Linked DNA regions of Homo sapiens: region 1 is linked to region 2. A link means that fine-mapping ties the variant in region 2 to the expression of a gene that starts in the linked region. Tissue or cell type: whole blood. Region 2 holds a variant in brackets; the other region holds the start of a gene. All regions are shown on one strand. Distances are between the middles of the regions.

The links. PIP is the estimated chance that this variant, and not a neighbour inherited with it, causes the effect.
Region 1: ZGRF1 starts here. The variant in region 2 is fine-mapped to the expression of ZGRF1 in whole blood (TOPMed, PIP above 0.99).

Annotation. Positions count from the first base shown.
Region 1 is chr4:112,631,856-112,639,961 of GRCh38, reverse strand. ZGRF1 (zinc finger GRF-type containing 1) reads left to right here and starts at 3,053. Exons shown (of 28, transcript NM_018392.5): 1 at 3,053-3,111; 2 at 6,720-6,806; 3 at 7,952-8,032. The coding sequence starts at 6,786. LARP7 (La ribonucleoprotein 7, transcriptional regulator) reads right to left here and starts at 2,819. Exons shown (of 13, transcript NM_016648.4): 1 at 2,723-2,819. RefSeq lists enhancers at 2,267-2,376, 2,417-2,466, 3,037-3,256.
Region 2 is chr4:112,557,671-112,565,776 of GRCh38, reverse strand. It overlaps ZGRF1 (zinc finger GRF-type containing 1), which reads left to right. Exons shown (of 28, transcript NM_018392.5): 17 at 2,503-2,646; 18 at 3,292-3,406; 19 at 4,782-5,044; 20 at 7,468-7,627. It also overlaps the pseudogene H3P14. Among named protein-coding and RNA genes, the nearest start is that of NEUROG2, 46 kb to the right of the region's middle. The variant T/A (reference allele first, on the strand shown) is at 4,569.

The DNA.
Region 1 (8,106 bases), 74 kb before region 2:
ATCTCAAAAACGAACAAACACAAACGTAGGCTATAATTATCAATTATTCTATAATTGATAATTATAATTCTATAATTGATAATCTATAATTATAAATTATTGATAATTATCCAATTATCAATAATTCTATCCAATTATTCTATCCAATCTCTTGTTAAATCCTATCAGTTTGACTTTTGAAATGGCTCTCATCTCCATCCAGTGTTTTCTACAACTACTGCTACAACTGTCACTAGAATATGCCAATAGTTTATAAACTGTTCTGTAAGTCACCCATTCTCAACAGGAGCCTATGTATAACCCATCTAAAACACAGACCTGGTTTTGTGATGCTTCTGTCAAAACTTGCAACATTAGAAATTCCTTAGCACCTTCCCGTAACATAATATGCAGTTTATGAAAACACTGTTTTAAAAAAAAAAAGTAACACTTGGCCAGGCGCGGTGGCTCACGCTTGTAATCCCAGCACTTTGGGAGGCCAAGGCGGGCGGATCACGAGGTCAGGAGATGGAGACCATCCTGGCTAACAAGGTGAGACCACGTCTCTACTAAAAATACAAAAAAAGAAAAAAGAAAAGAAAAAAATTAGCCGGGCATGGTGGCAGGCGCCTGTAGTCTCAGCTACTTGGGAGGCTGAGGCAGGAGAAAGGTGTGAATCCGGGAGGCGGAGCTTGCAGCGAGCCGAGATCGTGCCACTGCACTCCAACCTGGGCGGCAGGGCAAGACTCCGTCTCAAAAAAAAAAAAAAAAAAAGTAACATTTAACTGGCTTTAAATGAAGAATAAAAGTTATTGGGTAACAATACCAGTAACTTTATATACACTTTTGTAAATCCTCACAATCCCACTAGGTAGCAGTTTCTTCCATCTTAACACAAAAACTCAAAAAGGTTTAAGTGACTTGGCCAAAGCTAGCTAAGTAAGTTGTCCCAGGTATGTTTGATCCCACATTGTCTACCTTTTGGTAGAATTTCCCGCAATTTATCACCACGGACTCTATGTTCTGACTCAGGAATTCTTAATCTGAAGTCCATGCAACTTTGGCTGGACAAGAATTCTAGTGGGCTCCATTAAATTGTAAATGATACATTTTAAAGATAAGGTAAAATCAAGACTCTTGTACAAATATAAAATGAATACACGGTAAAGATTTAAGCACAGTCATGGGTTGCTTAACGACAAGGACACATTCTGAGAAATGCACAGTCAGGTGAGTAAGTACATCATTGAGTATGTAGTTATTCTATGATGTATTCACACAAACCTAGGTACTATTGCCTATTACTCACCTATAATCTTATGGGACCACTGTCATACATGCGGTCTGTCGGTATGTGGTGCTTGACTGTAAATAAGGGAACCAGTTAAGTGCTAAAAACCAGTTCAAAGGAGAATTTAAAAAGCAGGTACACAGGCAATCAGGAACGTTGAAATGAATATTAATAAATACTGCTCAGGACAATAATTAATTGCATCTTTACTGGACAAACCTAATTTCCATGTTGCTGTAGCGAGTTACAGGGTTGAAAAATAGTTCAAAGACCACGAAAGACATAGATAACTTGGAAGAGTGAGTCAGACAAGACACCAAGTCATTTGTGTGTGTTTGCTATTTAAAAGTATTTCGTAATTTCTCCTGAGGAAATTATATGAAAAATGTTTGTTTGGAGACGCAGCCTCTCTCAGTGGCCCAGGCTGCAGTGCAGTGGCGCGATCCCGGCTCACTGTAATCTCTGCTTCCCGAGTTCAAGCGATTCTCCCAACCAAGCCTCTTGAGTAGCTGGGACTACAGGTGTGCACCACCACTCCCCGCTAATTTTTGTGTTTTTAGTAGAGACGAGATTTTGCCATATTGGCCAGGCTGGTCTCGAACTCCTGACCTCAAGTGATCCTCCCGCGTCGGCCTCCCAAAGTGCTGGGATTACAGGCGTGAGCCACCGTGCCCAGCCTCGCAAAATGTTTTAATAGGTACATGCACGTTTTCCTGAGAAGCTAATCCATATAATTAAGTTTTCAAAAGAAGTGTGCCACAACAGGTTAAGAATCATTGTTCTGGTCACTGCTTACAACTCAAGTCCCTCAACACGTAGTGGCCTGTGTGTTCTGCTTTGTCTGAATCTTCTCGTCTAAATTTCCTTATTAAATTTTCAAGGCCCAGGTTAAATGGCATCTTACTCTTTGAGATCTTCCACCACCCTGTGTCCTATCATTTGTTTTCTCTTAAGTTTCTTTGCAAACGCACTCTGCACACCATATCTAGCAAGTGTTAGTTCCCTTCCGTAACTGGATTTTTTACTCTTTGAGGACGATGGCAGAGTCCTGCAAAAGAAGATGATAATTTTAGAATATAAATCCTCACGTTCGCTATCTTCTGGCAGCCACAGCTCAGCTCCAATCTGCGAAATACGGCACTCTCTTTATTGACTACTGCTTCTCTCGGCACCCGTACTTCCGCAAGGACGCCGTCATAGGCCGGGCGCGCCCCAAACCTCCCCACGCCGGGCCCCTATGCGCCCTTACTGTCTGAAAACGGGAACTACAAGTGCTGCCGAAGACTTTTGCGCGTGCGCATAGATAACTAGGCCAAGGAACTGATGGGTGTGCAGGACGGGGGGGCGGGGTAAGAAGGACGATAGATGATAGAGTGGACCGCAAGAAAAAGGACGGAGAGTTAATTAGACTTCGCCCAAGCTGTGCGACCCTATAGGCCGCTTGTAACTTACTCCGTTCGACTCCCAAAATACAGGGTCAAGTACTGCGGCCTTCGGACATTTCCGTCTCCGGATCCTGATAGTCTCGGTTACTTTCGCGTCATAGGATGAGCGACAACGTTTTCCGGTCCCAATTGAGAAAGACGGGCCCGGAGGCAGTGCGCGCTCCACCTACGTCACAGGCGAGGTGGTTCCAGGAGGGCTGGGCATCGGAGAGCGCGGCCGGCTGAGAGACTCGAAGCCAAGGAAGAATTTGATTGGCGATTTGAAAGCGGCGGTTTTTGGCTTAGGCGGAGGTGGGCGGGCCAAGTTTTGGGTCCTCATCTGGTGAGGTCCCGCGTTAATGACGTCACGTTGTTTCGCGGGAGAAATTCGAAAGTGGATTTTGTGCAATTTGACAGGTGAGGTGAAGTGTTTCTCGGGATTTCCTAGGAATGACTTGAGCGATTTGGGGCGAAGGGACGAAAGACTCTGCTCCTTAAGAAGAGAACCGGGAAGGATGCTGTTTGGAACCAGGATTGGGGTGGTCGCAGTCACAGCTACTCGGACTGCTTGTAGTAAGTGGTGCCTCTTCACCGTTTTTCCCAGGCCTTGCTTTGCAATTTCGAGTAGGTATGAGGACCAAAGAGGGCTTTGCTGTTTGTATTTAGGACTGAGAAAGGATCAAGTCTCCATTGTCATTTGGTGACAGGATTATGGTTCTTAGAATCTTGGCAAATGAGATGTGGGTTTCCTTTGTTTATTTGGACTGGATGGTTTGTTAACAATGTTGAGTTCATGATTCCAAAACTTTGTTATCCGAACTATTTAGAGGTTCAGGTTTAGGTTCAAAAAATACTCCTTGTTTAAAAAAAAAGGAAAAATATCTAGTATTTAAATGAATAATGGCTCATACTTTACTGAGAACACCGAGTTTTATGTATATATATTGCGTCCGTACATATAGTAGCACAATGTATATGTATGTATATGTGTGTATGTACGTATATCTGTGTGTATGTATGTATGTATATAATTATCACAGAGCATCTGGGGTCTTTAAAAACTTATTTGGAGATTAATCTTTCACCTATTAGAAGTCGGTCAACAGGTGAATTGTCTGGTAGACGTGGACAGATGAACACTTGGAAAAAACTCTTTGCATCTCACTTAAATATATATGATGCTGTTGTCTAAAATAATTTTTTCTGATTAATACTAAGATAAGAAAGGGTGTTGACTTTCAATGAATAAGTATTAGAGCTCTTCTAAATTTTAAAAGATCCAGTTAGCTTTTTTTTTTTAGGTTTTCTCCTATAATCGAATTTAACCATCCTTTAAGAGTTTCAGTCTTCTTAGTTCTTTTTAAACTGTACATTCCAGAAGTAATATCTCAATTTAGGAAAATAATGGAGAATTTATCTTGCAATTGTGAAATAGCATATAAGTTATCCTAAACTAGTAAATACTGGGTTCCTAATCTGTAAATTGTAATAATGCTTATTCTTCAGGATTATGAGACTGATAAATACTGTATGTAAAGTATCTCGTCCAATTCCTGCCTGATACATAGTATGTAATCAATAAATATATATAATTACACACGATAATCATATAATTGTATATTACATAATACAGTAATATAGTTATATATTATATAATTACATAATAATTATAATGTATATAATTAACAATATAATGTATATAATGTTTATAATATAGCACTTTGGGAGGCTGGAAGGATTGCTTGAGCCCAGGAGTTTGAGGCCACAGCGAGCTATGATTGCAACACTGCACTCCAGCCTAGGTGACAGAGTGAGACCCTGTCTCTGTAAAAGAAAAAGAAAAGTTAAAAAGCCAACAGAAACAAAACCTCCAAATAAAGCATTTAACAGTTTCTAGCATATGGTAGCACTGAATAAATGGTAGCTATTAAACAGATCTGATATTAATAATTGCCACATGCCCAGCACTGTGTCTGTACCATGTATTCTCATCTATGTATACAGCATATCTAGCCCAGGAGTGTTTTTCTCGATCTCTCTTTTATCTTCTTGGCATTCTTAGGCATCAGCAATTTATGTACGCCGGAGGGGAGGGAGATAGGATGTGGAAGTTGTATTTCTTTTTTTTTTTTTTTTTTGAGATGGAGTCTCGCTCTGTCGCCCAGGCTGGAGTGCAGTGGCGTGATCTCTGCTCACTGCAACCTCCGCCTCCCGGGTTCAAGCAATTCTCCTGCCTCAGCCTCCTGAGTAGCTGGGACTACAGGCCTGTGCCACCATGCCCAGCTAATTTTTGTATTTTTAGTAGAGACGGGGTTTCACCATGTTGGTCAGGCTGGTCTCGAGCGCCTGACCTCATGATCCACCCGCCATGGCCTCCCAGAGTGCTGGGATTACAGGCGTGAGTCACCACACCCGGCCAGGAGTTATATTTCTGAAAGGCAGTCCTTCTGTAGGTTTGGTTTCTGTCCTGTGACCTGTGTCACGAAGCAAGTATGCATATCTCATTTGCATACCCCTTACCTATTCTTTCTCCAGATCACCTTGATTAGTCAAGGGAAGATGCCAGTCACTTTCTTGCACTTCACCGCCCCCGCCTCGCCCTTTTATTTTTTTTTTTTGAGACAGTTTTGCTCTTGTCGCCCAGGCTGGAGTGCAGTGGCGTGATCTCGGCTCACTGCAGCCTCTGCCTCCTGGGTTCAAGTGATTCTCCTGCCTCAGCCTCCCAAGTAGCTGGGATTATAGGCACGCACCACCACACCTGGCTAATTTTTGTATTTTTAGTAGAGACAGGGGTTTCACCATGTTGGCCAGGCTGGTCTCGAACTCCTGACCTCAGGTGATCCACCTGTCTCGGCCTCCCAAAGTGCTGGGATCACAGGCCTGCAATTCTTGTTTGGGAAGACCTTCACTGGCCTTCCCTTGACTAAGGGTTATTTCAGCTTACAGCTTAGACTTTACTTCCTTGAAGAAGCCTTGTTTGATGATCCACACCAAGCTGGGTGCCCCTGCTGTGCTTATTCCTGCCTTATTTTATTAAAATTACTGTTTATCACCCCGCCATACTGAAATTCCTTCAGATGGAGGATAGAGTTTCCATTTAAATACTTTAGCATAATATCTGGCACAATAGTAAGTACTGAATAAATATATGTAACTTATAAATAATATGTAAGTGGCATATTTTATATGTCTAAAAGAGGAACTGAAATCACAATTACAGCTTTATTGAATCCTTCTAGGTCTTTTAGATCTGTATTCTCAAACTTGAGTGTCCATCAGCATCACTTGGAGGGCTTCTTAAAACACAGACTGCTGGGCCCCCAACCCCAGACTTTCTGACTTAATAGGTCATTTCTTACTAGTTCCCAGATGATACTGTTGGTCCAGGGGTCACATCTTGAGAACCACCTTAGGGGAAAAAAAAGAAAGTATGTTTCTTTGGCATTTCTGTTTACTTCTTCAGGGATCACCATCAGTGATTTTAGATTTCCAAATTTGCCCACAAAAACAGTTTTATCCAATAGCATAACAACTACAGTAACTGTTGCAACAGTGTTGGAAAGATTTTTCCTTGTAGAGGTACTATGTAATTGGTCCTAGATACTGTGGTATATTGATGCTAAGAAGTGAAAGGAAAAATTTAAAACACAAGGGGGCCATCTTGTGGTAACCGTAGCAATTCAGAAAACTTTAAAAATTGAATTTGCGCTATAGGGAACCAAACATGTGGAGGACAAATTCGTGTTTTCTGATACATATTATGCATCTGGAAAAATGCAGACTACAAGTTAATTTATGTATTTTACTTAGTTTTTTCTTTACTTATGAAAAAATGCTTGTTTCACAGCATGGTATCACTTTTACTGTGTCCTCAGTGATAGATAATTACACCTCTGTTTCCCTTGGTAGTTAGGTAATCTTGGAACTCCTTGATTCATGTCTGTGGTTGGGAGTTTATTGAGAAAAATTATATTTGATATTTTTTAAAAATCAGGGTTGAAATTTTATGTCATTTTTAATTTTAGGTGGTATAAATAGTTGAATATTTCCTATTTTCTGGACCCAGCTGGTTTATAACTTCAGAAGAAATAATGGAAAGCCAAGAATTTATTGTAAGTTTTACCATTTTTCACAGTTTGGTGAAATTCCCTTCCTCTGTCTCTTTCTTTTAAAGGCGTTTCACAAACATCTTGCTGTGTTGCCAGATTTAGCAAAAACAAAACAAAAAACAGGCTACTCAGTTAAATTTGAATTTCAAATAAACAATGCATACCTTTTTTAGCATTAGGATCCCAAATATTGCACAGTATTTTATCTGGTAACCCTATCTGTTACCTACTATTCATATTTGTTACACAAAATCATCACTTTTCAGCCTTTTGGCTAAGATCAAGTATTAGACAAAGTCCTTTGTAACATAATCTTTGAAAGTGTGAGACCGGGAAACAATTTCTTTCTCTTGAAGAACTGGCATCCGTCTTCTGTATAGATCAGCAGTTCTCACACTATTTGGTCTCGGGACTCTTTAACACTTAGAAAATTATTGACCCCAAATAACTTGTGTATATAGGGTCTTACGTCTATTGATGTTTTTCATATTAGAAGTTAAAGCAGAAATGTAAAAAGTATTTATGATTTGGCTTAATGGAAGACAACTGGATTCTCATATTTGTTTCTTCTACATTCAGATTGCAATTGAATCTTACAATATTGCATATACATAATCCTGGGAAACTTCATTCTGCACCCCTGAAGGAGTGAGGATGAAAAGACAGCATCATGAAAATAGTTTTGACCTCACAGATACCTGTAAAGGTCTTGGAGACCTCCAGGAGTCTCTGGACCAAACTTTGAGAACTGCACAGATTATTAGTACTGTGTAATCCAGTAATTTTTTTCCCTTCCAATTGATGACTAGGGAGCTCAAATTACTTTCAATGCTCATTTATCTTTTTTGTTTCTTCCTTGGATTTCTCCTCTCCTTTCTTCCTTCTCCTGCCATTTCCTCCCCTATTCCCTCCCTCTCCTTCTCTCTCTCCCTTCCTTCCCTTATTTATTTCATTTAATTAATATTTAATGTTATTGTCATGCTATCTGTGCTTTTGTTTTTAAAATTTAAAAAATTGATATGGGTGTATGTGCCTTTTTTTGATGAAAGGTGCCTTAAATATATTTTGTATGTAGGAAGGATATATAAAATACATAACATTAAATATATATAAATGGAAACCATTTCTTTTGTATTTTTGGAAATAAGGTTCTATATACTCATCAAAAGATGAAGAAGTCAAAAGTGTGGCAAGATGGAATTCTGAAGATCACTCACTTAGGAAACAAAGTGAGTACAAAGCAGTTGACTATAGGGTGCAAGAGCAAGGTTCTCGATTTTTGATTGAATATTTAAAAAACTGT
Region 2 (8,106 bases):
CATTTCTCTGATGGCCAGTGATGGTGAGCATTTTTTCATGTGTTTTTTGGCTGCATAAATGTCTTCTTTTGAGAAGCATCTGTTCATGTCCTTCGCCCACTTTTTGATGGGGTTGTTTGTTTTTTTCTTATAAATTTGTTGGAGTTCATCGTAGATTCTGGATATTAGCCCTTTGTCAGATGAGTAGGTTGTGAAAATTTTCTCCCATTTTGTAGGTTGCCTGTTCACTCTGATGGTAGTTTCTTTTGCTGTGCAGAAGCTCTTTTTTTGACCCCATGGAAAAAAAATACCTAACGTTCAGAACTACCAATAACAGGAAGAAGAGAATTTTTTTTTTTTTTTTTTTGAGAATGAAATGTTTCCCATCATAGTGGATTCTAAAGCACATTCTCAACGTATGTGGCATGCTAGCTGGATGTCTTTTGGCATAATTGTTACACGTTTGGCATGGATAGCACACAGGTTGGTGTCTTCAAAAAGGCCAACCAGATAGGCCTCACTTGCCTCCTGCAAAGCACCGATAGCTGCGCTCTGGAAGTGCAGATCTGTTTTAAAGTCCTGAGCAATTTCTCGCACCAGACGCTGGAAGGGAAGTTAGCGAATCAGAAGTTCAGTGGACTTCTGATAACATCTAATTTCACGGAGCGCCACAGTACCAGGCCTGTAACGATGAGGTTTCTTCACCCCTCCAGTAGAGGGCACACTCTTGCGAGCGGCTTTTGTAGCCAGTTGCTTCCTGGGTGGTTTACCACCGGTTGATTTGTGGGCAGTCTGCCTTGTACGAGCCATGGTACAGAGACCTCCTTACTTACCTCATTTCTCCTTCGGCTGGAGCTTGGTCAGCGACAGGCGGCGCTGGCGTTGGAGAGCGACGGCGGCGCGGTGGCGGCTGCGAACACAATTCAGTAAAAAGAATTTATAATGTGACCTTCGAAGGAAACTTTTGTGCAGGAACATTATGTATGTTTTTATTTTTTAAATGTATATCACATAGAAGACATTCATGAAGTGGTTGGATTTTTAGAAATTAAGCATTTGTGATCATTTTTTAAAAATTAAAAATCTCCAAGCCAGCATTTGGGGGAAAAAAAATTAAACAAGTAATACATAAATATATACAATGAAAAATGAAGGTATAAAGAAATATATACAGTTAAAAGTGAAAGTCTTACTTTAATACCTTTCATTTTCATTCCTTATAGGTTACCGTTGTGAAATGCATATGATTAAATAATTACTAGATATATTCAGTCTTAAGGTTCTCTTCAGTTTATTTTCTTCACTTCAATCTCTCATTCCTATTTGCAGCAGAGAAAATTTAAGATGAATCCAATTTGATAGATTTTGTCCAGTAAAATTCAGATGCATTTGGGTATTGAAATCTTAGTCGCTGCCCAGTTTAGTCTCTCTTTCAGGGCTTCCACACGTTTCTCATTTTTAAAAACCCTGTTCTTCTCTGTGCCTACTTTTAATATCACAAGATTCACATACTAATTACTAAGTAGTTACAAGAGAGGAGGAAGGTCAGCTTTCCTGAAAGAAGCTTGTTAGTGAAAATGGAATAGTATATTACTATTTTGTGATTATTTCTCAGCTTGCTAGAACTGCTAATATCCTTACTGATCTGATCTTTGGCACTATTCCAATTGCTGATGCCCTGGCAGTTGGTTTTCTCAGCCTGAACTGAGTCCAATATTACTTTTTTTTGTAGCTTGTTAAGTGGTTACTGTGGTCTAAATGTGTTCCCTGCCGTCCGTTCCCACTGCCAAATACATACTTTGAAATTTGATTGCCAGTGTATTAAGAGCTGGGGCCTTTGGGCAATGATTAAGTCATGTGGGCGCTGCATAACTTAATCCTGCATGGGATTAGTGGCCTTATAAGAGAGGTTAAAGGGAGTGCCTTGGCCCCTTTGCACCATCTGCAAAGTGAGAATGAGCCTTCACTGGTTATTCACTGGTGCTGTGCTGGCACCTTGATCTTGGGCTTTTTAGCTTCCAGAACTGCTATGAGAAATACATTTCTCATTTAAGATATTAATCATCTTAATAAATTACTCATTTAAGATATTTTGTTATGGCAGCCTGAACGGACTAATAAAATAGTCTTATGGGCTAGCCCATGTCCTGCCTTCTTAGGCCTTCTGTGGGTTTATGCAAAACCTAGGGATTTCCATTGTAGCAAACTCATCTTCCCATGTGATGTCTCTGCCCTCCTTCTTCCTCACCCTGTAATTCTGCCATCTCTTTAGTCTTTTTCTGTGTGATTCAAGTGGTACTGTATTAATTGCAGAATCTGATGCTGGTTCTTTTGTTCAGAGCACTCCCAACCTTTAGGTTGATAGTTGATGAATTATCTTTCCAGAACTTTACTTCTCATCTTGTGTATGTATATGTGTACTATAGATATATGTACACACATATGCAAATATATATAATTTCTAAAAATATAAAACCATACTGTATATGTCTGTGTAATATTTAAAAATGTTTGTCTTTTCAGATGATCTTTGGGTGGTTTCAAAAACCCTAGACTTTGAGCTGGATACTTTTATCGCATGTAGTGCTTTCTTTGGACCATCATCTATCAATGAGATAGAAATACTGCCTTTGAAAGGCTATTTCCCTTCTAATTGGCCCACTAACAGTGAGTATTACTATGCTCATTTTAGTTTATATTTAAAAAGAATGATAGACATAAGATGCACTGTTTGATTAAAGCCAACAAAAAGGACCCAACTCTAGTTTCGACTGTTGTGTACAGTGAGTTCCTGAAAATGTGTATGAAGTTGAATATATAGATATTTCTGTGAGGAAGAATGGTGTGTGGGGGATTGTTTTGTTCTAATTTTCTAATTAGATTATTCTGATTTTCTGTTTTCCATATATTTCTGTGAAGTAATTGAGGAAAAAATGCAAGAAAGTGTTTAAAAATTATACAAATACTACTCTGTGGCACAAGTGATATGTTGATTAAAGGAAACTGCTGGCTGTGAAGTTGTGCTACTAGGTACTAACTCAAAACAGGTGTTCTTGTTCATTTGCTGATATATGGAAGTCCAAATATGATTTAAATTATGCAGTTTATGCATACCCATTATAAAATGAATGAGCAGATAGCATAGTAATTTAATGAATATAAGTTTGGGATCTCTGTGTGTGTTTAAGGGTTTGTTTTATGTCATGTGCTTAATTCAGTAGCTGAACTCTGAGTTATGTGGGCATTTAACACAGAGTTTTTATGGTCCATTTTATTTACATCAAATGTTTATTTTCTGCATCCTCTGTACAGTGGTTGTCCATGCGTTATTGGTTTGTAATGCTAGCACAGAACTGACTACTTTGAAAAACATTCAGGACTACTTTAATCCAGCTACTCTACCTCTAACACAGTACCTGTTAACAACGTAAGTCATTTTTTACCTTTGAGTCATTGGTATTAAAAAATGGTAATCAGAAGTAAATATGAAAATTCAATAAAAGTACAGTATATAAATGTTGCCAATAAAATTGTAATTATTTTTCAGACTATGACATTATTCTCTGTCAGTGGTTAAAAAGAGAAAAGGGGCTGGGTGCAGTGGCTCATGCCTGTAATCCCAGCACTTTGGGAGGCCGAGGTGGGCAGATCACCAGAGGTCGGGAGTTCGAGACCAGCCTGACCAACATGGAGAAACCCTGTCTCTACTAAAAATACAAAATTAGCTGGGCATACTGGCGCATGCCTGTAATCACAGCTATTCGGGAGGCTGAGGCAGGAGAATTGCTTGAACCTGGGAGGCGGAGGTTGCGGTGAGCCGGGTGCCATTGCACCCCAGCCTGGGCAACAAGTGAAACTCTATCTCAAAAAAAAAAAAAAAAAAAAAGAGAAAAGGAATTATGCATTATTTTTCATCTGTTTATTAAGGTTTGAGCTAATAAATGTTACTGTACATTTTCACTTCATCAAGAGATAATTTAAGGATCATTTCAGTATTGATTTTATTTTTTATTATCTGTATTTTTATATTACAAATTATTTAACATTTAAAGGAATCATTTTACAGCTGGAATCCAGTGTGTATATTGCTACTGATTTTATTCTCGATATAGCCATATCTCATTTTGAATTTCTCAAGCACCATGTCCCTTTTTAAAAAATTGGAAGTGATATTATATTAAATGCATTAAAATTGATAGGAAAATCCAGTTTTCAATTTGGAATATTATTATCTACCTGTGATGTTTTATTTTTCTCACTACAATGAAGTCCTAGGTAAAAAAATAAATATCCTTTGATTTCATTATGTTATTTATCCAATTTGAAATGAATTTTCATGGAAATAGAAATAAGACCAATTCATGTGATGTAGTTTTACCTGAAATGAGGGCTAGATTAATTATCTAAGTTAGGTTTGTATAATAGAGCATGGGTTTTAAAGTCAGTCCGCCACTTATTTGTGGTGTGGTATTGGGGGAAAAAATTCAATATTCTTGTATCTGTACTTGGGATAATTAACTAACTATTTCCTAGTGTTGTTGTGAAGATTTCATCAAGTAATATGTAAAATGCTCAACAAAGTGTCAGCA[T/A]GTAGTAAGTATTCAACAAACGTCAGTTCTCTTCTACCCTCCTCGATATTGGAGTATGTATCCATTTACAGTATATATCCACTTACTGTTTATTTCCATAAAAAACTGTTCTCTGTAATGCTTACAAAGTGATGGCTAAGTTATGAATTATTCTACTCATCTTTTTCAAATGCCCCTTTTTTTAAAATTGTTTATTTGCTTCATTTTTATTAGGTCTTCGCCAACTATAGTTAGTAACAAAAGAGTCAGTAAGAGAAAATTTATCCCACCAGCCTTCACAAATGTCAGTACAAAATTTGAACTACTCAGCCTAGGAGCAACATTGAAGTTAGCTAGTGAGTTGATTCAGGTACACAAGTTAAACAAGGATCAAGCTACAGCTCTAATTCAAATAGCTCAAATGATGGCATCACATGAAAGCATTGAAGAAGTGAAGGAACTGCAAACTCATACCTTCCCTATCACAATCATACATGGTAAGAAGCAAGAAAGAAAATAATTGTAATTGTTTTCTATTTGTAAGCTTTTGTAACTCAGTCTGCTCCTTTATAATTTCCTAGTCAAATGAGGTTCAAGAATAACTCTAAGTAGACTTTTTAAACCTGTACCCACTTTGGTAAACTGTTAGATGAGAACAGAACTGACTACCCTAAAAGGGAGACTTATTAGCATATCTGATGAATGAGTAGCATTATAAACTTATGGTCAAAGTATCCAGATTGATCTAGATGTTTACATGTTGCTCTCCTATAGTAAACTTAACTTGATCAGCAAAACCTTTTATTTATTCCTAGTCAGCTCACTCTTCTATCCTTTATATCAGTGATTACAAACCTTAATTCTTCTCATAACCTCATTCTTGTCCTTTCTCTTGATCTTGCCTCTAAAAGAGGAAATGGAGGTCATAACAGAAACTGCTTTCAATATCCTGCCTTCCTTCTCCAATTTACCTAATTTTGGAGCTATTCTTACCGCTTGGTTCTGTCACAGTGAAGGCGATTTACTTCCTCCTGCTTACAGTAAATAGTTCTATCTGGACTCTGTTGCCTCTGTAGCACATTTTCTCTCATAGACCTCCACCCCAAAGCTAATCCTACTTTTCTGTCCTATTTTGAGGAATTATGTCATATCCACCCTGTTGACCAAATCAAATCTGAGAGTGATCGTAGATTTTTCTTTCTCTCAAGATTAAGTGACTCTCTCTTAATCCTCCTCATATTCTCTCACTATTCATCTCCCGCCATCAGATTAGTCACTGAGATGTGTTCCTTCTAGCTTCTATCCATCTTTCATATTGAGTGTCTCTTCTCCAGTTTACTTGTATCCCCTCAATCCAAGCCTTCATCATACCTCCATATAGCCTAGTGGGTAAGAGTGTGGGGTCTAGAGTTAGAATCCTGAATTTACGTTCTGACTGTATCATTTGTTAGCTGTATGATTTTGGGCAGGTTATATATCTCTTAATCTTTAATTTCCTACTCTGCAAAATGGAGATCATAATAGCATTCACCTCATAGGGTTGGAGGATTAAATGAGTTAACATACATAAAGGGCTTAGAACAGTGCTTGGCACATGGGAGGTGCTTAGTAAAGTTAACATTTATTGTTGTAATTATCTCACACAACTTTCTAATTGATCTACCACTAGTTTTGCCTTACTTCATATTTTCATTCAAGTTGTTTTTTAAAAACACAATCTGATTAAGTCAAACCCATTGCTTGGCCTCACACCTGTAATCCCAGCACTTTGGGAGGTCAGGGAGGGTAGCTCGCTTAAGCTCAGGAGTTCAAGGTCAGCCTGGGCAACATGGCAAAATGCTGTCTCTACAAAAAAATTTAAAAATTAGCTGGACATGGAGGCATGCACCTGTAGTCCCAGCTACTTTGGAGGTTGTGGTGGGAGGATGGCTTGAGCCTGGGAGGCAGAGGTTGCAGTGAGTCACGATTGCGCCACTGCACTCCAGCCTGGGCAACAGAGCCAGACCCTGTCTCAAAACAAAACAAAACAAAAAAAAACAACCATTGCTTGAAATCTTTAGATGACATCTGCTGGCCTTTAAGATAAAATTCAAACTTTGTTTAGCTATAGCAAACAGAGCTTTTGTGATTTACCCCTGTGCCTACCTTATCAGCCTCATCTCTTGCCTATTTGGTAGAGGTTATATAGAAAAGTTATTTTAACAGCGACATGCTTTGTCATGGCTTTGCCTGGAATGGCCCTATCTCTAAGCAGTCTGGACATCTTATTCTGGAAGTCTTAGTTCTACTTCTTAATTTTAGGAAGTACTCCCACCTCCATCAAAACAGAGATAGATTTTCTTCCTTCTCTGATCCAAGATAATATTACTTACCATCTTATTTCTAATTATTCCTTGTTTATCATTTTAAGTAGGCGCTGGTCTCATTAAAAGTGGAAGTATTTTGGTTATCTATTTATCCCCTGTGCTTTGCACATAGTGAACACTCAATGTATTTTGAAGACATTAATTAATTAAATGGAGGAGGGAGAGATGGATGAAATATTTGTTATACCTATAGAAATTTATGTTTGACCAGGCACAGTGGCTCACGCCTGTAATTCCAGCACTTTGGGAGGCCAAGGCAGGTGGATCACTTGAGTTCAGGAGTTTGAGACCAGCCTGCCAATATGGTGGCTCTACTAAAAATACAAAAATTAGCCAGGTGTGGTGGTGCACGCCGGTAATCCCAGCTACTTGGGAGGCTGAGACAGGAGAATCACTTGAACCTGGGAGGTGGAGGTTACAGTGAGCTGAGATTGTGTCACTGCACTCCAGCCTGGGTGACAGAGTGAGTGAGACTCTGTCTCAAGAAAAAGAAAAGAAAAAAGAAATTTATTTATTTTATGCTTTTTATTTTTTTCTTCTTTTAAAATAATTAGGTGTGTTTGGAGCAGGAAAGAGTTACTTGCTGGCAGTGGTGATTTTGTTCTTTGTACAGCTGTTTGAAAAGAGTGAAGCTCCCACCATTGGAAATGCAAGGCCGTGGAAACTTCTGATTTCTTCTTCTACTAATGTGGCTGTTGACAGAGTACTTCTTGGGTAGGCATGACAAGTGCATTTAAGTAGCTAATGTTTTGGGATATTGTTGAGAGAGGCAACCCACTATGGGCCCTGAGTGTCCATGTACTCTTGCTGGTTATGCCAAGAATGCAAGACCTTTGTCTCTGACCCAGAAGCCAGCATCTATGAAACAGTAATGGGCTAATTAGCTTGTAAGTAGGATAAAATCAAAACCAGAACTGGAAATTTTGGCACAGTGATACTCATGCAAAAATTCAAGTTCAGCCAAGAACATGTAGGGCTAGAGAGGTATTGTTGGGGGAGGCAGTCTGCCAGCGGCCCTGAGCATCCCTGCTGGGATGCTAAGGATGCAAGTCCCTGACCATTCTTACCCAACACATTTCTCACAGTTTGTTTGCAATAAGCAGCTTTGACTGATGAAGTAATGTCTCCCTCCAGGACAAAGAGCAGGCTTGCTTATTACTTGTTATAAGATAATGGATCCCCAGCCTCAGTGT